Linked DNA regions of Homo sapiens. The protein of the gene in region 1 interacts with the protein of each later gene in a pairwise test. Each region holds a gene or a part of one and is shown in the gene's direction. Other genes may lie near its edges.

Region 1 (9,071 bases):
GCACTCCAGCCTCAGCAACAGAGCAAGCCCCTGTTTCCAAAAAAAGAAAAAAAAAAGGGAGTTGCCCACAAAATGTAGATTTTAAAATGCTTTCTGGGGGAAAGAATAGATACATGAAGTATAGCATGTCAGCAGGAGACGCCAGGTGATGGATAATAAGTATTTGTTGTAAAAATTCTTTATCTTGGCTGGGCGCAGTGGCTCACACCTGTAATCCCAGCACTTTGGGAGGCTGAGGTGGGCAAATTACGAGGTCAGGAGTTTGAGACCAGCCTGACCAACATGGTGAAACCCCATCTCTACTAAAAGTACAAAACAAAATTAGCTAGGCATGGTGGCGCATGCCTGTAATCCCTGCTACTTGGGAGGCTGAGGCAGGAGAATCACTTGAACCCAAGAGGCAGAGGTTGCAGTGAGTCAAGATCGCGCCACTGCACTCCAGCCCGGACGACACAGCGAGACTCCGTCTCAAAAAAAAAAAAATTCTTTATCTTTTCTGTGTGTTTGAAAATTTTTAAATAAAATATTGGAGGAAGAAAGCTTTCTGGGGCCTGTTTTGGTTGAGTTTAAATTATTATGGCACCAACTGTAATTCTGTTAAGAACAGCCATTTCTGCATACTTGCTGAAGCCCTCTGTGTGTATCTCTAGACCCTCATCACCATTTTGTCTGGTGCTGGAGTTACCCAGAAAGGTTCTCCCATTTTCTTTTGTTGTTGTTGTTGTTTTTTTTGTTTTGTTTTTGTTTTTTTTTGAGACCGTGTCTCACTCTGTCGCCAGGCCAGAGTGCAGTGGTGCGATCTCGGCTCACTACAACCTCTGCCTCCTGGGTTCAAGCAATTCTCCTGCCTCAGCCTCCTGAGTAGCTGGGACTACAGGCGCCTGCCACCATACCCAGCTAATTTTTGTATTTTTAGTAGAGACGGGGTTTTACCATGTTGGCCAGGATGGTCTCAAACTCCTGACCTCATGATCCACCCACCTTGGCCTCCCAAAGTGCTGGGATTACAGGCATGAGCCACTGTGCCCGGCCTTTTTTTTTTTTTTTTGAGACGGAGTTACGCTCTTGTTGCCCAGGCTGAAGTGCAATGGCACGATCTCGGCTCACTGCAAACTCTGCCTCCCAGGATCAATCGATTCTCCTACCTCAGCCTCCCAAGTAGCTAGGATTACAGGTGTGTGCCACCATGCCCGGCTAATTTGTGTGTGTGTGTATATATAAATGTATATATGTGTGTGTGTGTGTGTGTGTGTGTGTGTGTGTGTGTGTGTATATATATATATATACACATACTTTTTTTCTTTTTTGAGACGGAGTCTCGCTCTGTTGCCCAGGCTGGACTGCAGTAGTGCGATCTTGGCTCACTGCAAGCTCCACCTCCCGGGTTCACGCCATTCTCCTGCCTCAGCCTCCCGAGTAGCTGGGACTACAGGCGCCCACCACCACGCCCAGCTAATTTTTGTATTTTTTAGTAGAGACAGGGTTTCACCGTGTTAGCCAGGATGGTCTCAATCTTCTGATCTCGTGATCCGCCTGCCTTGGCCTCCGAAAGTGCTGGGATTACAGGTGTGAGCCACCGTGCGCGGCCTAATTTTTGTATTTTTAGCAGAGACGGGATTTCACCATGTTGGTCGGGCTCGTCTCGAACTCCTGATCTCAGGTGATCCACCTGCCTTGGCCCCCCAAAGTGCTGGGATTACAGGCATGAGCCACCACACCCAGCCCCATTTTCTAGCCTGAATATGTCAGTGGTCAGAACATGGATCCTAGAGTCCCTTCCATCTTGGTCTCTCTCGAATAGTTTGAGTGCCTCCCTGTGTTCTGCCCTGTTGCATAACAGAGGTTGCTGGGTTACTCTTAACTACTTTGTTTGGGTTTAACATATTCAATAACTATTTTTGTGTTTTGTGCTCAGAGGGCTGAACATGTCCGAGTTTGTCTGTAACCTGTCAGCAAGGCCTTATGTGTACGACCTCATTGCCGTGTCCAATCATTATGGAGCCATGGGGGTTGGCCACTGTAAGTATTGACATCTGCTTCCTTCTGAGATGTTGAAATGTGCTCGGCCATCATCTCTCACCAGTGGACCAGGCATTGCCCTAAATGCTTTGCTTATGCAGTTTCACAGGCTTCATGCTGCACGCTTTCTTCATACTGATTCCCCTCTCTGTTTTTTTTTAATTCTTTTTTTTTTTTTTTTTTTGAGACGGAGTCTCGTTATGTCACCCAGGCTAGAACACAGTGGCGCAATCTCACTCACTGCAAGCTCTGCCTCCCAGGTTCACGCCATTCTCCTGCCTCAGCCTCCTGAGTAGCTGGGACTACAGGCGCCCGCCACCACGCCTGGCTAATTTTTTGTATTTTTAGTAGAGACGGGGTTTCACCATGTTAGCCAGGATGGTCTCGATCTCCTGACCTCGTGATCCGCCCGCCTCGGCCTCCCAAAGTGCTGGGATTACAGGTGTGAGGCACTGTGCCTGGCTGGTTTGCTCTTTTTTTGAGACAGATTCTCACTCTGTCACCCAGGCTGGAAAGCAGTGGCGCAGTCTCGGCTCACTTGCAACCTCCACCTCCCGGGTTCAAGCGATTCTCGTGCCTCAGCCTGCCGAGTAGCTGGGATTACAGGTGTGCGCCACCACACCTGGCTAATTTTTGTATTTTTAGTAGAGACAGGGTTTTGGCATGTTGCCCAGGCTGGTCTTGAACTCCTGGGCTCAAGCGAACCACCCTGCCTTGGCCTCCCAAAGTGTTGGGATCACAGGTGTGAGTCACCGTGCCCTGCCTGTGTTCATTTTTATTTGCTAATTTTTGCACACAAACATACCATTTGGGCAAGTTTCTCATCCTCAGTTTTCTCATCCATGAGGTTAGGCTGGTTGTGTGAGGGTCCACATTGGGCCTACAGTTGGAACTTCAAAATTGAAAGCCACCGTTGCTGCTATTGTGTCAAGCACAGACTGTGTGAACTGGCCTTGGGCACCTTCTCTGTTGCCCTTTCCCATGATCCTCACCACCACTTTGTGCAGTCAATGCTATAGTGAGGAAACTGAGGCTGAAGTGTTAAACACCTTACCTAAAACCACACAGTAAGTTGACACTGGATATCAGATCTCCATTGGGTTCTGTAGTTTCTGAGAGTCTGGGTGGAGCAGGAACTGGGCTGGGATTGCTGTAATAAACACATCCTGCTTGGGAATAGTGTAAAGTCAAGACAAGAAGCATTGCCTCTGGGAAATGCTTGAATCATTGTGGGAAACTGTTACCTAACCACAGACTCTGGACTCCTAGTTTTAGAGAAAGATAAATTTTTTTTTTTTTGGATATGGAGACTAAGGTATGTTGTTCACATCCCAGCTCTGCAAACCCAAACACCCAATGTTCCTCTAACTGGGATTATTCTGTAGGCTCCCGAGGCACTAAGCATTCTGTTGATGTTAGTAGCCACCTGCCTAGATGCAATGGGGGAGACTGACTTGGCATGTCCTTGTGAGAGCTATTGTTTTGCTTAAATCTTAGAAGTTTCAGCTCCTTTTATGGGTTCCCTGGTTTTGGATTATTGCACATAGCCATCCTGAAGATTGGCACTGAATAGCTCTGTTTTTTCTATTAGTTTCCCAAAATTATAGTTTAAAATCTTGGTCCCTGACAGCTCCATTTTTAGCCTTTTGATCCTTTTTGAGAAGGAACAGATTAGAAAAGAAGGTGAGTTGTTTTTTGGTTGTTAAGACACACACTGTAAACTTTTTTAATTTCAGGGGTTTTGTTTTGGGGATTTTTGTGTTTATTTAGTGCAAGCCTAATAAGCTAGCCAGATTAATTCTCTGGAGACCGCTAGAGTATTTTCTTTGTTGACTTGGCAGACACTGCATATGCGAAGAACAAACTGAATGGTAAATGGTATTACTTTGATGATAGCAACGTGTCCCTGGCCTCTGAGGATCAGATAGTGGTGAGTAGGCCATGATATGTGGTTCTTCCTCATGTCGTTATGGATTAAAGCTGGGAAGAGCCTCTATCAGGCTAGTTGGTTATTTCATCATCCTGATGTGATAGTGGGAGCTAGGTGTGACAGAGCTGGCTGGCATTCCTTCAGGGACCTTCATAAATGAGAAGCTCAGCTCTCCTCAGAGTTCTCTGCACAAGGCTCCTTCCATTTCCTGCTGCCTGGCAGGGGCAGCCATCCTCAGGTGGAAGGGTCTCCTCTGTGTGGATATGGCAGATCCTTGAGGGTTTTGGACAGCTAGAGAAAAGCTGGGGAAAATGGGTGATTTTTCCAAGCACTGAATGGTCTTTCCCCCTCTTGTATTTCAGACTAAAGCAGCTTATGTGCTATTTTACCAACGTCGAGATGATGAATTTTATAAGACACCTTCACTTAGCAGTTCTGGTTCCTCTGATGGAGGGACACGACCAAGCAGCTCTCAGCAGGGCTTTGGGGATGATGAGGCTTGCAGCATGGACACCAACTAATGCTGACTCCACGATCCTGCCACCCTGTAGCGCCAGTGTAATCCCCCAGGAGAACATCTTTGACACTCTGCAGACTGCTAGTGTTCTGTCTAAAAACCAGACAAGGAAATACCCTTCTTTTATGAGCAGAAGGAAACAAAAAAAAAAAAAGAAGACCGTTTACCTAGAAGAAGCTATGTCAAGAGGCTGAATTATTTTTATTTTTAAACAGGTGGTGAGAAATTTCTGTGAAACCTGTGAAGCTGAAAAGGGGGTGGGATGGGGGTACTCAATGGAGTATGTCTGATGGATCCCGAAGAATGGAGAGGAACACAGGCGCTGAGTATGGAGCAGCCTGGAGACCCACCCCACCTGCAGGGCTGCCCTGAGCGCCTGGATTTCTGGTTCTGATGCCAATACTAGTCACCCCAAGTAGTCTGCTCACAGTAACCCAAACCTCAAGTAAACTCCCCTTTCCCTCGCTATGTGCACTGATATGGGTTTATAATTTTCTGAAAGTTACCCACTGAAGCCCATTTCTCCGTTGAGTCATCTTGTAATTTCCAGCTTTCTCCCCGCTAAGGAAGATATCTAGTGTTGGGGATCCTGGCCCCTCAACCTCCTGTGGAACCCAGCAGTTCTGTTATATCCCCTGCTACCCTAGATGAATTAAGACGGTTAAATACTGTGTGGAACTTTTATTAGATAACACACTTTTTATTAGATAACGCTTAAAGGAAGTCAGTACATAAAACTGCCCGGTGCTGTGTCCCGTCTAGTTGTTTCCATGTTGGCTTGAGAACAGAAATCTTTGTGGGAGTTAGCCGGGAAAGGGCTCCAGTTCATGGCGATTTAGGGTAGTAATACATTTTGGTGTTACCCAGATGCTTTCTAGAACGGGTTCTTTCCTCATCCCTGCCAAGACTCTTCCCGGGGCCCCCATTCGAAAGCCCCGTCCCCACTCCCACCGCGGGGCCAGCCGCTGCGTGTGGGCAAGGCCTTAAGGAACCGGACGTATGGGTCCGGGATTTTTTGTCTGACCTTCAACCTAATCCGTGGGGGTTTGGGGCCTGCGCGGGGCACGCGCATGCGATGACCGTTGGATGGGTCGGCGTCACTGCGCTGCGGGTGAGGACAAGGACGTGGCTGCCGACTCGCCAAAGGGGGGGTGCCGGTAGGGCCAGCGGCCTGGGAGCCGCGGTGGGGCGGGAGGCAGCGGCGGGGCGGGCCAGGAAGCTGTGGGAAGTGGGGCGGGGCGTCTTTGGGGCTTCTGGCAGATGGCGGGTTCCTCCGCGAGAGCCGAGAACCGCCTACTCCAGGAGGAAAGCCCGAGGGTTGTGGGTCCTGCTATAGCCAGGGCCAAGCTCCAGGAAATCGTGGCCATTCAGGGGTAGTTTGCAGCCTCATTTGTAACATTATTGTGTTGTCCTGTGCATTTCCAATGCATTACATAAAGACATGGTCGCTTTTAGGAGAAATGTCTGAAAAACTAAGAAGATGCAGAAAGGAACTGACTGCAGCCATTGACCGGGCCTTTGAAGGAGTTAGTTATTCCCAGGAGTGCACAGGCCAGCAGAGGCTGGAACTGAGCGCCGCGCCGCTCTCCTTCTCGCTGCCCGTGCACAGGCTCCTCTGCAGAAGACATCCTCTGGCAGCCTGCTCTTCTGCTGCTCCTTTTGCTGCTGTCCCATGTGCTCCTGAGAATGAGAACCCTGCCTTTGCAACAAACCATGCCCCGGTAAATGCAAAACCACATGCTCTGTGCCCCGAGAGAAAACCTCTAACCAGCAAGGAAAATGTATTGATGCATTCCTCCATTTTGGCACCTGAAAGAGAGTCTTGGAGAACTGCAGGAGAGGGGGAAAACTGGAGAAAAGAAAATTTAAGGTGATTCTAATTTTGATGGTTTAACAGCTACAATTAAGGGGATTCTTGTTTCTGAAAAAGTTGTTGAAGATCCTAGATTTAGTTCATGACAGTGCTCTTGCCTCCTCTTGGCAGCTCTGTGACTGCATTTGGGGAGTTGACAGACATTCTTCAGAATCTGGCCTAGGAAACAGTTATATTTTGTGTATATGTTCCAGTTGAGGGGCTAGTTGTCAATCGTTGATGTCAAAAACCAGTCATGGAAACCACTTTGCAGTACCCAAAGGGGTAGTGGATGTAAAATAACCGGGTTTTAAAAATAACCTTATTTTTTAAGTTGCAGAAACAAAAGTCTTAATTCCATCTTAACTCCTGTGTTTGAATCTGGACACTGGGGCCTTTGATACCCTCCTTTGCCCACATTAGGGAGAGGCTTAATTGAAGGCTGGGCCCTACTTCCTGGCTTCATCTTTGCCTCTGCTCCCCGCTCTTACCCCAGATCTTTTTGGACCATCACCAGGTCTCTTCTAGACTTTTTCTTCTCCCGAGTAACTTGAAATTGCCTGGTCCCAGGCACCTTGACTTGGAGAAGGGATGAATGTATGAGATGAAACTTCAGGCCGGGCGCGGTGGCTCACACTTGTAATCCCAGCACTTTGGGAGGCCGAGGCGGGCAGATCACGAGGTCAGGAGATCGAGACCATCCTGGCTAACACGGTGAAACTCTGTCTCTACTAAAAATACAAAAAATTAGCCGGGCGTGGTGGCGGGCGCCTGTAGTCCCAGCTACTCGGGAGGCTGAGGCAGGAGAATGGCATGAACCCGGGAGGCGGAGCTTGCAGTGAGCCGAGATCACGCCACTGCACTCCAGCCTGGGCGACAGAGCGAGACTCCGTATCAAAAAAAAAAAAAAAAAAAAAAAAAAAAACTTCAAAGTTCTGCCATCTTGGCTGCTTCATAGGAAGGGGATAAAGAGGCCATTTAATTGGTTCAACTCCACAAGAATTTTTTTCCTTTCAACTCCACAAATATTTATATTGGTACTCATAAGCAGTGCAGGCCTTGCCGGGTGTGGTGGCACGCCTGTAATCTCAGCACTTTGGGAGGCTGAGGTGGGTGGATCGCTTGAGGTCTGGTGAAACCCCGTCTCCACTAAAAATACAAACATAAGCCGAGCGTGGTGGCGCGCGCCTATGATCCCAGCTACTTGGGAGGCCGAGGCAGGAGAATTGCTTGAATCCTGGAGGCAGAGGTTGCAGTGAGCTGAGATCTTGCCATGGCACTCCAGCCTGGGCAACAGAGCAAGACTCCATCTTAAAAAAAAAAAAATGCTGGGCACAGTGGCTCACGCCTGAATCCCAGCACTTTGAGAGGCTGAGGCGGATGAATCACCTGAGGTCAGGAGTTTGAGACCAGCCTGGCCAACATGGTGAAACCCCGTCTCTACTAAAAATAGAAAAATTAGCTGGGTGCCGTTGCGGCCGCCTGTAATCCCAGCTGCTCCAGAGGCTGAGACAGGAGAATCGCTTGAACCCAGGAGAAGGAGGTTGCGATGAGCCGAAATTGCGCCCTTGCACACCAGCCTGGGCGACAAGAGCAAGACTCTGTCTTTAAAACAAACAGGCCAGGCGCGGTGGTTCACTCCTGTAATCCCAGCACTTTGGAAGACTGAGGCGGGCAGATCACCTGAGGTCAGGAGTTCGAGACCAGCCTGGCCAACATGGTGAAACCCCCATCTCTACTAAAAATACAAAAATTAGCTGGGCGTGGTGGCAGGCGCCTGTAATCCCAGCTACTCAGGAGGCTGAGGCAGGAGAATCACTTGAACCTGGGAGGCAGAGGTTGCAGTGAGCCGTGATTGCGCCATTGCACTCCAGCCTGGGGGACAAAGCGAGACTTCATCTCAAAAAAATAAATAAAAAATAAAAATAAATAAATAAGTAAACAAATGCAGGCTGGGTGAGGTGGCTCATGCCCGTATTCCCAGCACTTTGGGAGGCTGAGGCGAGTGGATCGCCTGAGCCCAGGAGTTCGAGACCAGCCTGGGCAACATGGCTAAACCCTGTCTCTAAAAAAGAAAAAAATTTAATACAGTCTGCGATGCTCGTGAGTCATTATGGTAAAGCTGTTAGTCAATTTCTCCACTGATGTAGCAGTTTCCAATTGTCCTTTAATCAAAGCATAAATGACAAGGTCACCAGTAAGTTTTTGTCTTTGAGATTATCTAAAACTGAGTTTCCCTTCAATATTTTCTTGAAAGAGAATCTAATTCCCCACCTTTTCTTCCCCCCCACCTGGGGGCTGCAGGAAAGATATGGAGAGAGATTTGAAGGCTGACTCAAACATGCCACTCAACAATTCTAGCCAAGAGGTCACAAAGGATCTGCTTGATATGATTGGTGAGTACAGTGGGCAAGTCCATCCTGTCCTTGGGAAGATAGGTCCTTCACATGGGTCTGAGTCAGCAAATATCTCAGATATAAGAAATGCTCTCGGCCAGGCACGGTGGTTCATGCCTGTAATCCCAGCACTTTGGAAGGCCGAGGAGATCGAATCATGAGGTCAGGAGTTCAAGACCAGTCTAACCAATATGGTGAAACCCCGTCTCTACTAAAAATACAAAAATTAGCCAGGCGTGGTGGTGCACGCCGGTAATCCCAGCTACTCGGGAGGCCGAGGCAGGAGAATTGCTTGAACCCGGGAGGCAGAGGTTGCAGTGAGCTGAGATCTTGCCACTGCACTCCAGCCTGGGGGAC
Region 2 (8,615 bases), on another chromosome or scaffold:
AGCCGCTGCACCTGGCCTCCAGGTAGCCATATTTTAAAGTAGGGTTCAGCGTCAGATATCCCAGGCCTTGTTCACTGCATTTCACAACTCTGCTTCTCATTATTGCCCACACTCATGTCTTTTCCCTAAATGGGATTTATTCCATTGCAATGTCAAAATATGCAGAAAAAGCACAAGACCCTTGCATGGACTTTGAAATAGTGGGCCTTGTTTTAGCAGAGGTTTGTTCATTGGAGACTCAATTAAAGGGCAAGAAGGTGTTTCCTGGTGGATACTTTTGTACATTCGTGATTCTGAGGTGTTTTGGTTTTACTTTAAAATAAGACTTTGGGTATCCTTTTGTAGGTGGATAAACACATTCGAAGGCTTGATGCAGACCTGGCGCGCTTTGAAGCAGATCTGAAGGACAAGATGGAGGGCAGTGATTTTGAAAGCTCCGGAGGGCGAGGGTTAAAAAGCAAGTCTGTTAATTTTTTTTCTTTATTTTATTACTGTTAACTATGGAGTTTTGAAGAGTTTTGTCACGGTAAATCATTAAAGTATGATCACTAGGGTAAGTATCATATTTGGGTAAACCTTGTCTTGCAGGCTGGGTGTGGTGGCTTACGCCTGTAACCCCAGCACTTTGGGAGGCTGAGGCAGGAGGATCACTTGAGGCTAGGAGTTTGAGACCAACCTGGGCAACATAGCGAGACCTCATCTCAACAAAAAATTTAAAAATTAGCCAGGTGTGGTGGTGCACACCTGTGGTCCCAGCTACTCGGGAGGCTGAGGTGGGTGGATTGCTTGAGCCCGGGAGGTCAAGGCTGCGGTGAGCTATGATTGCTCCGCTGCACTCCAGCCAGCCTGGGAGACAGAGCGAGACCCCTTTTTAAAAACAAAACACAAAACTTGCCTTGCTTTAGAGAATTCTATAAAAATAATTTGCATCTTGATTATTTTTCAGAAGGCCGGGGTCAGAAAGAAAAAAGAGGGTCCCGGGGCCGAGGCAGGAGGACATCAGAGGAAGACACACCAAAGAAAAAGAAGCACAAAGGAGGGTAAGAGGCTTTCCCCTCTTTTTCCCAAAAGAACGAATACCCATAGCCTGTATCCCGGATGTAGGAACACTGATGGAAGCTGACCCGAGTGAAGTGCACCCCGTGTGCCGGGTGGTATTCTGATTCTTACGCTGCGCGCCTGTCGTCAGCCTGTCCTCACCGCAGCCTTTGAGGGGGTGCCGTTGTCAGGGGCATTTTCAGTGTCGCAGGGACCTGCCCAGGCTTTAGGGCTGCTGTGGTGCGGCTGGGCTGCACCTGGAGTCTGACTCCAGTGCCTGTCCTCTTAGCCACAGTGTGTGCTGCCCCACTAGGGACAGGAGGATGGTGAGCAACGTGTTGTTGACAGAGGCCAATGTAGACCACTCTTTAAGTAGCTAGATTTCTGTATATCTGTCAGTTATTTTATGTGTCAACATATAGTGTGCATATATTCATTGTTAATTATGTGGCCACATTTATTAAATAGACATGTCATTTAACTTGAAGTTTTTTGAGATACTTTATTTAAAGCATTCTCCCACTGACACCCTCCCTGCCAAAGGTGTTGTATACCCTCCAAAGAGATCGTAGCATTACCTCAGAGGAGTGACATTTAGACTAAAGAGAAAATGCTGAAATGCCACGAAGCCTCTGTGGAGATGATCTCACAGAGGGAGGGTCAAAGAGTGTAAGTTTTGGGCACGGTAGCTCATGCCTATAATTCCCGCACTTTGGGAGGCCAAGGCGGGAGGATCACTTGAGCCCAGGAATCTGAGACCAGTCTGGGCAACCAAGTGAGTCCCCCATCTCTACAAAAAATAGAAAAAATTAGCTGAGGGTGGTGGTGTGGGCTGTAGTCCCAGCTACTAGGGAAAGCTGAGCTGGGAGGATCATGAGCCACGATCGCACCACTACATTCCAGCCTGGGCCACAGCATGAGACTCTGTCTCAAAAAAAAAAAATAAAGAGAAAAAAAGAGTTCTTCTTGACAAAAAAGGGACAATTTTCTTTTTTTTTTTTTTTGAGATGGGGTTTCGCTCTTGTTGCCCAAGCTGGAGTGCAATGGCGCCATCTCGGCTCACTGCAACCTCTGCCTCCCAGGTTCAAGCGATTCTCCTGCCTCACCCTCCTGGATAGCTGCAACTACAAGTGCGCACCACCATGCCCGGCTAAGTTTTTGTATTTTTAGTAGAGATGGGATTTCACCATGTTAGCCAGGCTGGTCTCGAACTCCTGACCTCAGGTGATCCACCTGCCTCGGCCTCCCAAAGTGCTGGGATTACAGGCATGAGCCATCACACCCGACCCAATTTTCAGTTTTTTTTTTTTTTTTTTTTTGAGATGGAGTCTTGCTCTGTCCCTCAGGCTGGAGTGTGGTGGCGCGATCTCAGCTCACTGCAACCTCTGCCTCCCAGGTTCAAGCAGTTCTCCTGCCTGAGCCTCCCAAGTAGCTGGGACTACAGGTGCATGCCACCACACCCAGCCAATTTTTTTTTATTTTTTGTAGAGATGAGGTTTCACCTTGTTAGTCAGGATAGTCTTGATCTCCTGACCTCGTGATCCACCTGCCTTGGCCTCCCAAAGTGCTGGGATTACAGGCGTGAGCCACTGTGCCCAGCCCCAATTTTCAGTTTTTTAGCTAGTGCTTAGCCTTTTGGCCGGGCGAGGTGGCTCATGCCTGTAATCGCAGCACTTTGGGAGGCCAAGGCAGGTTAATCACCTGAGGTCAGGAGTTCAAGACCAGCCTGACCAATATGGTGAAACCCCGTCTCTACCAAAAATGCAAAATACTTAGCTGAGTAGTTGGCAGCTGCCTGTAATCCCAGCTACTCGGGAGGCTGACGCAGGGAGATTGTTTGAACCCGGGAAGTGGAGGTTGCAGTGAGTCAAGATCACACCACTGCACCCCAGCCTGGGTGACAGAGCAAAACTCCGTCTCAAAAAAAAAAAAAAAATCCCAACATTCTCGTATTGTAAAGTAGTGCACAGATACAGAAAACCGCACAGAACAAACATGGTTTAATTAATTTCCGTAAAGTGAAGATCTTTGTAAGTAGCACCTAGTCAGTGATTAACTGCTGCTGGAAGGCCTTCCATATGCCCTGTTAAAATCATAAACTCCTCCTGCCCCCAAATAAACATGATCCAGATTTCTATAGTGTTTATTTCCTTGTTTCTTTAATAGTTTTATAGTGCATTCCTAGACACTATACATTATAGTTTAGTCCTGTTGTTTTTCTAACCTTTTAAATTAACTTTATTAAGGAATAATTTACATACAATAAAATGTTATTCTAAGTGTACAGTTTGATGTTGCATTCAGTTCCTTTAAAGTTATGGAAGTATTCAGGCTTTCTATTTCTTCTCGAGTCAGTTTTGGAAAAAATCTGTGTCTTTCAAGAAATTTGTTTCATGTAAGTTGTCAGATTTTTTTGACATCAGGTTGTTAATAATTTTGCATTATTATGGTTCTGATGTGTCTGTTATGATGACCCCTCTTTCAGTCCTGATACTGGTAATTTATGTTTCTCTCATTTTGTCTTGATCCTTTTTTTTTTTTCCCTGAGGGCAGGGTCTAGCTGTGTCACCTAGGCTGGAGTGCAGTGGCATGCACATGGCTCACTGCAGCCTCCACCTCCCTGTCCCCAGGCTCAAGTGATTCTCCCACCTCAGCTCCCGAGTAGCTGGGACCACAGACATGCGCCACTATGCCTGGCTAATTTTTTGTAGAGACAGGGTTTCATCATGTTGCCCAGGCTGGTCTCAAACATCTGGGCTCAAGCAGTCCGCCTGCCTCAACCTCTCCGTGTGTTGAGATTACAGGCGTGAGCCACTGCGTCTGGCCGTCTTGATCTTTTTAGAGAACTAGCTTTTAGTTTCATTATTTTTATTGTTTTCTCTATTTTTTTGTTTGCTATTGCATTTGTTTCTACTCTCTATTTCCTGTTTTCTACTCAGGTTTACTTTGCCTATACTATTCTAGCTTTTTAAGGTGGAAGTAGCTTGCATAATTGATTTTTATATCTTCCTTGTTCTAATTATTATCTTTGTTGCACTCCACAAATTTTGATATATTATGATTTTGATATAATTTTGATATTGTTTTAAATTTTTATTTCGTTTACCTATTTAAAATATTTTAGAATGTTTTTCTTGTTTTTTGAGATGAGGTCTCACTCTGTCACCCAGGCTGGAGTGTAGTGGCATGATCCTGGCTCACTGCAGCCTCCACCTCCTGGGCTCAAGAGATCCTCCCACTTCGGCCTCCCAAGTAGCTGGGACCACAAGTGCATGCCACCATGCCTGGCTAATTTTTTATATTTTTGGTAGAGATGGAGTTTCACCATGTTGCCCAGGGTGGTCTTAAACTCCTGAGCTCAAGTGATCCACCCACGTTGGCCTCCCAAAGTGCTGGAATAGAATTTTTTTTTTTTTTTTTTTTTTTTTGGTGAGACGGAGCCTCACTCTGTTGCCCAGGCTTGAGTGCAGTGGTGTGATCTTGGCTCACTGCAACCTCCACCTCCCAGGTTCAAGCAATTCTCTTGCCTCAGCCTCCTGGGTAGCTGGGATTACAGGCACGTATCACCATGCCTGGCTAATTTTTTTTTGTATTTTTAGTAGAGACAGGGTTTCACCATGTTGGCCAGGCTGGTCTTGAACTCCTGACCTCAGGTGATCTGCCTGCCTTGGCCTCCCAACATACTGGGATTACAGGCGTGAGCCACCGCACCTGACCTAGAATTTTTTTTTTCATGCTACTTCTTTGCCCTATAACTTATGTAGAAGTATGTGTCTCAATTTCCAAATAATTTGGGATTTTTCAGATACCTTTCTAATTTTAATTTTTTAGTTGACTTCTGTTGTGGTCAAAGAACATTACATAATTGAAATCCTTTGAAAGCCAGCTAATTTTTGTATTTTTAACAGAGACAGGATTTCACCATGCTGGGCAGGCTGGTCTCGAACTCCTGACCTCAAATGATCTGCCCACCTTGGCCTCCCCTCCCTGTAAAGTGCTGGGATTACAGGCATGAGCCACCGCACCCGGCCTTCATTGCAATATTTGGTCTGTTCATATTTAACATAATTAATGATATGGTGGGATTTAGGTTCACCATCTTGCTATTAGTTTTCTGTTTGTTCCTTCTGCTCCTTTGCTGTCTTCTTTTGGACTAATCAGGTATTTTTTAGTATTCCGTTTTTTTCCCCACTCTTGTCTTATTAGCCATGCTTTTTTTTTTTTTTTTTTTTTTGAGACGGAGTCTTGCACTGTTGCCCAGGCTGGAGTACAATTTGCAATGGCATGATCTTGGCTCACTACAACCTCTGCTTCCCAGGTTCAAGCGATTCTCATGCCTCAGCCTCCGCAGTAGCTGGGATTATAGGTGTGCGCCACCACACCCGGCTAATGTTTTTGTATTTTTAGTAGAGACAGGTTTTCACCATTTTGGCCAGGCTGGTCTCGAACCCCTGACCCCAAGTGATCCACCCACCTCGGCCTCCCAAAGTGCTAGGATTACAGGCGTGAGCCACTGCCCCGGCCCCTGTATTTTAAGGATTGTTCTAGTGTGTGCACTCAGTTTCCTTAAGTTATCACAGTGAGCTTCAGATATTACACTATTTGATGTTTAACGTGTGGCTCCACACAAGTGTTCTTCCATTTCCTGCCTTTGTGCTGTTGTCCTTCACTTTGCCTGTGATCTGAGCTTCCCAGCACGTTATTACCTTAGATGCAAACCACTGATGACGTGAAACACGCCTTAAAATATATGTGGAATGTAAAGATGTTGAACTCACAGAAGTAGAGAGTAGAATGGTGGTCAGGCGCTGGGGTGGTCAGGGGAGACGTTGGATACAGAATTTCATTTAGATAGGAGGAATAAGTTCAAAAGATCCGTTTTACAACATGGTGACTACAGTTAATAACAATATAGTCTCAAAAAAATGTGTAGATTTTAAGTGTTCTCACCACAAAAGTCACCCCATATATAGTTACCTCATATAGTTGCCATTTCTGGTAACCTTCATTTTTTTTTTTTTTTGAGACAGAGTCTTGCTCTGTGTCCCAGGCTGGAGTGCAGTGGTGCGATCTCAGCTCACGGCAACCTCTGCCTCCCAGGTTCAAGTGATTCTTGTGCCTCAGCCTCCTGAGTAGCTGAGATTACACCCACCTACTCACCTGGTTAATTTTTGTATTTTTAGTAGAGATGGGGTTTTGCCATGTTGGCCAGGCTGGTCTCGAACTCCTGGCCTCCAGTGACCCTCTCGCCTCAGCCTCCCAAAGTGGCAGGATGACAGGCATGAGCCACCGCGCCTGGCCCAACTATTATTTCTTAATATTTATTTTCTTTCTTTAAAAATTTTTTTTCCATACATATTCTGCTTACGTATATTTCTTTATGTGGATGCAAATTTCTGTCTTGTCATTTCTCCTCTACTGAAGAACTTTAACATTTTTTGCAGTACATGTATGCTGATGGTGATGAATTCTCTGTTTTTGTTTCTCTGAAAATGCTTTTATTTCACTGCGTATAGAATTTTAGGTTGACCTTTTTTCTTTTATCGCTAAAGATGTTCTCTCATTTTCTTCTGTCTTTCATTGATTCTGATGATAAATTACTGATAATAATTATTTTTGGTGGTTTCTTTTTTTTTTTTTGCTTTTAAGATTTCTCATTGTCACTGGCTCTTAACAGTTTGGTTATGATGTGTATTGGTGTGATTTTTTTGTGTATATTTTGCGTGGAACTTGTTGAGCATCTTTGAACTGTTGGTTTATACTTTGCATCGAATTTGGAAAATTTTCAGACAGTTCTTCCAGTATTTTTGTGCTCTCCTTTCTCCTCTTCCTGCTGTCCAGCTCCCTGTGCGTTCCTTAGCTTAGATTTTCTCACAGCTCACCGAGGCTCTGCTTACTTTCTGCAAGCTTTTTTCTTTCTGTACTTCAGTTTGATTTGTTTCTATTACTTTATTTATTTATGAGACAGGTTCAGGCTCTGTGGCCCAGGCTGGAGTGCGGTGGCGCAATCTCCGCTCACCGCAGCCTCTGCCTCCCGGGTTCAAGCCATTCTCCCGCCTCAGCCTTCCAAGTAGCTGGGATTACAGGTGAGCGTCACCACACCCGGCTAAGTTTTGTATTTTTAGTAGAGTCGGGGTTTCAGCCTGTTGGCCAGGCTGGTTTCAAACTCCTGGCCTCAAGTGATCCGCCCAGCTCAGCCTCTCACCTTCCCTTTCCTTCTTTCTTTCCTTCCTTCCTTTCTTCTTTCCTCCCTTCCTCCCTCCCTCCCTCACTTCCTTCCTCCTTCCCTCCCTCCCTCCCTTCCTCCCTCCCTCCCTTCCTTCCTTCCTTCCTTCTTTTCTCTTTCTGTCTTTTTTTTTTTTTTTTTGAGACGGTCTTGCTTGGTCACCCAGGCTGGAGTGCACTGGTACAATCTTGGCTCACTGCAAGCTCCGCCTCCCAAGTTCAAGCGATTCTCTGCCTCAGCCTCCCAAGTAGCTGGAATTACAGGCACGTGCCACCATGACTGGCTAATTTTGTATTTTTAGTATAGACAGGGTTTCACCGTGTTATGCAGGCTGGTCTCGAACTCCTGGCCTCAGGTGGATCTGCCTGTTTTTGGCCTCCCGATGTGCTGGGATTACAGGCGTGAGCTGCTGTGCCCGGCCCTAAGTTAGTTTTAATCTCCTTTAATACATTTTTCATTTAAGAGATTGTAGGGCTGGGTGCTTTGGCTCATGCCTGTAATCTCAGCACTTTGGAAGGCTGAGGTGGGAGGGTCACTTGAGTAGCCGGGATCACAGGCATGTGCCACCATTCCTTGGTAACCAGCTTTTAAAAAAACATAATCAGTCCTATTTCCCTGCTGAGGGTACATGTCTCATGATTTATTAGCTGTCTGACTTTAGATATAAAGGAAGCGTGGAGAGGGAAATTTCTGTTCTCCCCAGGAGGTGTTCGTTCTGTTTTAGTCCAGGCCAATAGGGCTGGGGGCCTGGGGCGGGGCAGGGTCTCAGCTTCAGCTCCACCGAGGCCCCTTGAGGACCTTGAGGTTTCCTCTCTCGCCTCCTGCCCCAGCGGCTTCCACAGTTGGTAGAAGTGCGGGGGAGGAGACCAGCGGTGCCCGAGCAGACCCCTTGCTCGAGAACTCCGAGGTTGCAGGGATTTTCCCTCTGCTTTTAGTTGCTCTGTGCAGCCTCTGGACTATAAATGTCGGTGGGGACGCGGCCGCCATGTGTGGCTGTGTGGGCTCAGCGTGGCCCAGTGGCCAGCCCAGCCCTCACTCAGTGCATGAGGCAGGCGGACGCCGCCCCCAACCCCCCAACACCCCCCACTCTGGCTGCAGGTCATCTAGCTCTTGTTGCTCCACAGCTCCCCGACATCTTTGAGAATGTGGTTTTTGTGACTTGCTGGGTTTTGTGTTTTCTAACTCAGTGGCAACAGCGTTCTGAGTCTTCCTGCTCCTTCCTGCTCGGAACCTGAAGGCCCTGTCCCGACCGTGCCTTTTCTGCGTGAAAGTGGGACTCCTCCTGGTCTCTTCCTCACCCAGTGCTGTTTCTCAAGGGTATGCTAGGCATAAGGAATGCAGGCACTGGGGG

Evidence for each region.
Region 2: the proteins of C3orf62 (region 1) and ING5 interact in binary tests that used the Homo sapiens proteins (3 or more experiments, as listed by UniProt).

The regions. Positions count from the first base shown.
Region 1 is NC_000003.12:49,273,692-49,282,762, reverse strand, and holds the start of C3orf62 (uncharacterized protein C3orf62), read left to right. Parts: upstream 1-5,530; 5' UTR 5,531-5,890; coding exon 5,891-6,336; intron 6,337-8,576; exon of another isoform or gene 8,577-8,622; coding exon 8,623-8,714; intron 8,715-9,071. Other genes in the region: USP4 (ubiquitin carboxyl-terminal hydrolase 4), read left to right, coding at 1,916-2,019, 3,861-3,949, 4,312-4,470. UniProt on the Homo sapiens protein: Essential for normal spermatogenesis and male fertility.
Region 2 is NC_000002.12:241,711,032-241,719,646, forward strand, and holds part of ING5 (inhibitor of growth protein 5), read left to right. Parts: intron 1-345; coding exon 346-457; intron 458-946; coding exon 947-1,040; intron 1,041-8,451; coding exon of another isoform or gene 8,452-8,590; exon of another isoform or gene 8,591-8,615. UniProt on the Homo sapiens protein: Component of the HBO1 complex, which specifically mediates acetylation of histone H3 at 'Lys-14' (H3K14ac) and, to a lower extent, acetylation of histone H4. Component of the MOZ/MORF complex which has a histone H3 acetyltransferase activity.